Linked DNA regions of Homo sapiens. The protein of the gene in region 2 binds, or shares a complex with, the protein of the main gene of each other region. Links are inferred from orthologs where the notes say so. Each region holds a gene or a part of one and is shown on either strand. Other genes may lie near its edges.

Region 1 (3,914 bases), on a different chromosome or scaffold from region 2:
AGCTCCGGGAGCATCTTTTCTGGCAGGTGGAAATGTAATATCACGTGGTCAGAAGGAAGGGCTCCTACTTGGATGGTGAGACTAGGATCTAGTAATTGCCAGGAAGATTCTGGGTGGTATTTCTTCACTGTGAAAAGTAGACTCCAATTCTTTAACTCTCGTATTCTATAATTTTAAATTAGGTAAATTTAATCGCTCGCTTCTTGGCTCAGCGTTACTACAAATTAAACATGCAAGTATTAATATTGAATATAATGTCCCTTTAAACAATATCCTGAAACTCGTTGTGGGGCATTTCCAATATATCCATAAAGCAAATAAAACAACTTAATTGTTTGTTTCTCTAAGGGAAGGAGCTAAACCCGAAATTAATTTAGTTCGGCCTGTGAAACAATTCGTTTGCTCTGCCTAATTCTGCCAATTTAAGAACTTTTCCCAGACACAATTAGCATGTAAATCGGCGGCGGGGAGCGAAGAAGGAGCCTCGGCGACCCCGGTTGGGTGGAGCGCGGGACAAAAAACCCCGGAGGCCGAAGGGTCCGGAGCTTCGAAGGGGCTGCAGTACCGCGCCTGGGGCGCACGGACGAGCCAGGGGACCAGCTCACACTGACCCTGCAGTCATCAGCCAAAATCTGGGTGTTAAATAGCGCAGCCGGGGATCCAGCCGTCTTGGCCGCCAGATCCTTCTCCTAACCCCGCGGGATTCTGAGGAGACGTCCTGGAGCCGGCCCCCACCCAACCCGCGGGAAAGCGCAATCCTACCCACCGCCCCACACTCCCCAACCCCCTCCCGAGGCTGGCTCTTGAAGCCGCGGGGGCTGCGCGCGCACCTAGGGCCGCGCCCCCCACTACCCCAGGTCTATAGAGGCCTTTGCCCGAGAAAGGTGGGGATAGCGGCCCCTGCTGACAGCTCTGGAGAACAGCAGGGGTACTGATTTTTTCTTTTTTTCCTACCATTCTCCCTACCTTTTCCAGGTGGTGGTAGTGGTGCGGGGGGAATGGGTGTTGACCCATGTGCATTTATTCTTCGTGAAGCCTCTTAAGCAGATGTCTGTACTTAGAGAAGCGACCAAAGAGGGAACGTGGACTTATTAGTGGTCTTAGTCCCAATTAGGGAACAGGTACAGTTTCCAATATAAAGAAACTCGGCCTAAGTGGGACTGAGACCCCGATCTCCGCACTTGCTTTTCTCAGCCAACTCCATGACTAGTAAATATCTCTCCGAGAACTGCTGGGCCGCCCGATGTTACTTTGTTTAAAGGTTGCGACTAGGATCCGTACCATCTGCGAAGCCCCCTTGGGGAGCAAGAGCCGCGGCGCGCAGTTGATTTCGGGGCGCAGCGGCAGGGGGAGGGGAACGTGGTGTGGCCCGACGAGTTGGCACAAGCCTGTAACTGCAAGACTTTGTAGCTATTGAAAGTTCAAGTGGTGAAAGAAGGCTGTGCCTGCCATTCTTCATGTGATCATAACAATAGCGCCTTGGAAGTGGTTGCGATTTTCTTCTTCCATAAACCTTTTGGGTTCTCACTGGAATTGTATGCGTGTTATTTCTGAAGTTTACTTATTTCTAAGACCAGTCCACAAAATGTGAACTTCATTAAGTTTTAAAATAGATCGCCGTCGTTAAAAACGCCATTCTCTGCACTGTAGTTTATTTGCTTACTTCACATGCTTTATTAACGTGTGTATGTGCGTAATTAATAGCTGTGTTCTTATCTTCCAAGTGTATTTTTAACCGCACCGGCTTCTATCCAATTCATCTAACTACGTAGAGCGTCCATCGCTTCTGGAATCTACCTCTTGATAACAGTAATCAGAATCAGAAAAGCTCGCCGTTCACTTACCCTCATCCTTTAAAACTTTTCCATTTAAGAAAATCGATGAACAAAACCTTTCTTGTAACTCGCTCCTGCACTACGTCTATTTTTATTTATTTTTCTGATTTGGCAGGACTCAGCAATGCTGTCCGGGATTTTTTTTTTCTTTTTTTTTTTCCTAGCTAGAGCAGATGTGGGGGTGGGGGAGGTGAGGGCTGGGCTCCAGCCAGAGTCGCCCCCGCTGAGCCTCCGCCTAGCGCGCGGTGGGGCCAGGAATCCTGGTGGAAGGAAGCGGCGCTGGCCAGTTGGTCCAAGGCTCCACCTGCAGCCACACCGCGTAGTTTCTCCGCCTCTGCCTCGCTCACTCGCACTCACATACACCACAGCTCTCCTTTGGGTCGGAGGAGACGCCAGCCAAAGTAGGCGGAGTTGCGGAAGGAGAGTCCGATCTGCGCAATCCAGTCCGGGACTTGGCTCCGCCCGGGAGCGGCGGCCTCTCCGGTGACAGAGGAGTAGTGAGCGGCACGGGGTGAGGCTGCAGCCAACTCCGCTCCCCGCGCACTCGGCTGCCCAGGCGCTCGGAACCCAGCAGCGGCGCTCCTCCGCGGTGCCGGTCGCCCGCGATGCCCGCTTAGCAGCGTGTAGCAGCGGCCAGCATCACCACACCCGCGGCACCGCGCTGCCGGCCGCAGAGCCGGGCCAGAGCCTTGCACCCCTGCCCCAGCCCCCACCCCGCCCCCCGCCCTGAAATGACTTGTTAATCGGCGCAGACACCACCAAGGGGACTCACCGAAGTGGAATCCAAGTGGAATTTGGATTTGGAGAAGAGTTTCTTGAACATTTACCCTCTTCCTTGTTGGTTTTCTTTTTCTTTTTCTTCTTTTTTTTTTTGGCTTCTTTTTTCCTCTCCCCTTCTCCGCTCGTCATTGGAGATGAACACATCGCGTTTGCATCCCAGAAAGTAGTCGCCGCGACTATTTCCCCCAAAGAGACAAGCACACATGTAGGAATGACAAAGGCTTGCGAAGGAGAGAGCGCAGCCCGCGGCCCGGAGAGATCCCCTCGATAATGGATTACTAAATGGGATACACGCTGTACCAGTTCGCTCCGAGCCCCGGCCGCCTGTCCGTCGATGCACCGAAAAGGTACGCCCCGGGCGCCCGGGCGCGCCCCACCTCCCGGGCAGCTGGACTCCAGCCTGAGGGTCCCGGGGCCGTGGCTAGCGCGTGCTGTCGGCTTTGTGGTGCCTGCGTTTTATTTTGTCTTGTGTCTCTGTTTCCCGAGCCTTGCCCGGTCCTGGGGGAGCAGCCGTGAGCCCTGCCTGCCTTTCCTCTCTGCCCTGCGCCCCAGAGTGCGTCCGGCTCCACGTCGAGAGCTTTCCCACCCGCGTTGCGCACACGCCCGGCGCCGCCCCGGGCCGCGACGGCGCGTATGGCTGTTCCTCCTGGGGGTGTGTGTGCGAGACCCAAGGCTCATCCTCCCGCGTGCCCAGCAGGGAGCAGAGCGGGCCCTAAATGGTGGGATTCTCGGAAGCTCCCTGGCCCGGTGTGTCGAAGGCAGGGGAAGGGGTTCTGCCCTCGAGGGCTGGAGGGGGTTGGGTATAACAGCGCTGTTTTCGTCCAGTGCCAGGTGGGAGAAGGGGTTCCGCGGAGACGGTGTGGAAGCGGAGAGAATCTTTTGTTGTCAGTGTGGGGTCTGGGCTGGGCTCCGTGGAGTGCAAGAAACTTGTAATGGCTCTAGGCACCCGCGCGCCCTGTCTCTCGGTGAGATCCTGGCTCCTGTGGCCGCTGCCACCAGAGGTTCCGGGCTTTGTTTGCTCGAATAAGTGTCCGGGAGCAGCCGTTCGGGTGACGCGGCGCCCCCGCCATGGGTCCTGTCCCCCGCCGCAGCTCCCAACCCGAGCGGCAAGGATATAGCCCGTCGCGGCTGCGTCCCTCCTGAAGCACCGAGCCCTTTGCACCGGGCTGGCGCACGGTACGCCCTCCTCCCAGATCAGCGCGGTCTCGCTCTGGAAAGATGACCCAGGAGGGGGAAGGGTGAGAGACCTGGCAGAAGATGGCCCTGGGTTTGAAACCCAGACTAGGGCTCTGTTCCGAC
Region 2 (2,957 bases):
AGGGAAAAAGCTGGACTCAAGCCACGCCATGAGGGTGAAAGGTTATAAGGCCCTGCCCCCTTTCCAGCTGCCCACCTGTTCCTCCTCCACACCTCTTCGCTTTGGGCCACCAAGAACCAATGAAGTCCACACCCTTTGGATGAGAAAAAGAGGGAGTTGGTTGGCCTCTCTTCTCCCTGTTATCCAATTTGAGGATATTTTGACCTTGGGTAAGGATGAAGTGTTAAAGCCACAGCTCCTCTCCACAAGAAGCCATTCATCTTGGGGGAGGCAGAGAGGGAAGTCTCTCTCCAAAGTCTATCCAGCTTCGCTTCGTTTCATTGATCTGCACAAGAGACAATGCTCTGGAAAAGGAAGAGGACCCCAGAAGGGTGCTTGGCAAGACAGAGGATGCTAATGGGCAATGGAGAGCACTCCCTCCAGCTGGCCCCTGCTGCTGCCTCCCGTCCTCTGCATGGGGTCAGGTGCTTCTGTGCTTGCTGTCCTACCTCTCTCCACAGCAGGGCTCTCAAAACCATTTTGATCCCCCATTGGCAGAGGGTTCCCCTCTTTACAGAGTTCAGTCATTAAAAGCATGGATCAGCTGTTAATCTCATTGGAGGAGGGAACTGTTTCCTGCATTCATTCATCTGGGAACCTTCTTGAGTAGCCACTGTCTGCCAGCCACTGCTCTAGAGATGGGAAAACAGCACGGAACAAAACCAAGGTCTTTCTTCCAGCGAATTTATATCCTTCAGGAAGCTGGTTCCTGCCACCAACTTAGCAGGCAACAGTTCTCCTCCCCTAGTGGCACAGGGTACCAGTTTTGTAGGAAAAGTGGTCCAGCAAAGGAAGAAAGCAGACCAACCCAGCTGCCTTACCTTATTCTGGGGCCATTCCCCCAGCGATGAGAGCTGCTCTTGTTTCTACTGCCACCATCTCTTCTGGCTGCACTTCACCTGCTGCTTGAGCTTCTGACCTTCCTTCAGTTCCACCAAATGAGGACAGGAAATAGCAGTCAAGACCCCTGGCCCTGCTGAGCGTGAAACAGAAGCAATGGATGAGTGCTGGACGAAGAATGGCCTGGGCAGAACAAATAGGGAGCATTTGAAAGCTTCTGGCTGATAAATCTCCAGGTGCATCCCGGTTGCCACGCCTGCCCCCATTAACCTGCTCCTGGTAAATACTGATCCAGCAGCTGCTCCAGGAGAGGCCGTCTTTTTTTCCCAGCCACGCTGTGTCTTGCATGAGACTCCTGGGGCCTGGGCACAGAGAGAAAAGAATTGAGACTCAGGAGGCTCAGTGGGTGAGAAAATGCAAAGTGGCTTCACAGACACAGGGCTGTGGGAGCAGATCGACGGGGAACTTGGGAGATGAACTTCAGGGCCTTCCGACGCCTTGTCTCAGGAACATGCTTTGAGAAAAATGGTAGCATCCTTTCCATAACTCAGTCTCTCTTCCCTAGTTTCCCTGAAGTGTGACGTTTTAGTATCTGGAGCTCAGTGATCCCCATGAATGAGGGATAAAGTTTCACTCTTGGTATTTTCTAACTAGTGCTAGGGAAAGTCCTGAGACACGATCACAGCCACTGCTTGGCATACAGGGCCTCCACCCAATAAGCAAACTGGAGATTCCTCAGCCTCTCGTGGACACCCACATCTCATTCTTCTCACAGCAGAGAAGCTCTCCCTTCAGCCTGAGCTGTCTTCTTTCTGCTGCAGTGCAGCCTGCTCCCTCCTACCCTGGCCTCAAGGAAGGTAGGAAACATCTTCTGCATTTCAAAGTCCTCACTTTGACTTATTTGGCCTTCATCTTGGCATGGAAGGTGGCAGGCAGAATGGAAATACTCCCCCCAAACAGAACAGATATTCTTGCGTGTGTAAGGGCAGAAGGGACAAGCTCTCTATCCCATGAGACTAGGGGCCGGAGCCCACCTGCCTTTCCCCACAACTTTTCCTGCTCAAACCCACTCCTCTTGACACACTGGAATCTGTATTATATATATTTTTAAGAAAATACAATGATGGTTGTCTGGTTTTGTTGTTTTTACAGGTGTTGTGGAATAAAAACTGTAAGAAAATTAAGTATTTAAAATGTTCCAATAAAGTGGGGTTTTTTGTTATTCTAATATATTATTGTGTACCTATTGTAAATATGAAACACTCCTATTTTGCAAGCTGAGGACACAATTTGTACTGTTGTTATATATAAATAAAGTTTACTGAATTAAAAAAACCTTAAATCTTTAAATAAACCCGATTGTTCAGCAGCATATATGCAGAATAACATTTTAAGGGCATATTTAAGAATGGTACTCATGGAAATATGAGCTAAGTTGTTTTGAGGGAGTTTTAGAATTCTCTCTGGAGCCAGAGCTTATTAATGTACCAGTCATCATCATCAACATAACACACACACACACACACACACACACACACACACACACACACACACACACACACACACACGAGATACCGTGGCTTATACCAGCAGGTGAACACTGCCCCCTAGCCCCAAGACCTCAGAATACAGCTTTCCTCCAACTGGAGGCAGCTAGTGTACTCCATGAGTTAGGACCCCTTCCCAGGAGAGAAGGGAGGTCTCAGAAGAATGAGATCCTCCTCTGCCTCCATGCTTAATACATGTTCTTCATGTGTTTGTACATTCATGTATACAAAGTGCATTCTTGTGCTTGTACAAAACGTATTAAGCACGGCCTGGCACTGTGGTAAGTGCTGGGGGATAACATAATAAGTGAGAAAGACATGATCCTTGTCCTCATCAACCTTTTAGTGTAGTGAAAAGCATAGGCTTGCTTAAAAAGGAATGTTTCACCATGCCTTGAGAAGGGGTTTTATGGTTGCTTTTTTTTGGTCATTTTCAGTTAAAGGATTAAAGGTAAATAAAGGGAAAGATGCCAGATAGTGTGTGCTTTTAGATCCAGTGCAGGTAAGACAAGAAGGCGGGCCCTGCCTAGG

The links.
Region 1: the proteins of PLXNA2 (region 2) and SEMA6A are in contact, whole or in part, in a crystal structure (PDB 3AL8), measured with the Mus musculus proteins. The link is inferred for Homo sapiens from one-to-one orthologs. Residues at the interface, in NP_032908.2 of Mus musculus: Ala93, Cys94, Tyr95, Pro96, Lys155, Gln192, Asp193, Tyr194, Asp220, Phe221, Val222, Pro229, Ser230, Asp231, Leu386, Lys389, Val391, Thr394, Lys395, Ala396, Pro397, Val398, Leu407, Asp408, Ile409, Asn410, Gln411; in NP_061214.2 of Mus musculus: Arg108, Met109, Lys110, Gly111, Met162, Ala163, Thr188, Phe190, Leu191, Ile193, Tyr198, Thr206, Arg208, His212, Asp213, Ser214, Glu219, Gln266, Arg267, Glu270, Lys271, Lys393.

What each region holds. Positions count from the first base shown.
Region 1 is NC_000005.10:116,573,233-116,577,146, reverse strand, and holds the start of SEMA6A (semaphorin-6A isoform 2 precursor), read left to right. Parts: upstream 1-2,323; 5' UTR 2,324-2,962; intron 2,963-3,806; exon of another isoform or gene 3,807-3,914. UniProt on the Homo sapiens protein: Cell surface receptor for PLXNA2 that plays an important role in cell-cell signaling. Required for normal granule cell migration in the developing cerebellum.
Region 2 is NC_000001.11:208,021,518-208,024,474, reverse strand, and holds the end of PLXNA2 (plexin-A2 precursor), read left to right. Parts: 3' UTR 1-2,233; downstream 2,234-2,957. UniProt on the Homo sapiens protein: Coreceptor for SEMA3A and SEMA6A. Necessary for signaling by SEMA6A and class 3 semaphorins and subsequent remodeling of the cytoskeleton. Plays a role in axon guidance, invasive growth and cell migration.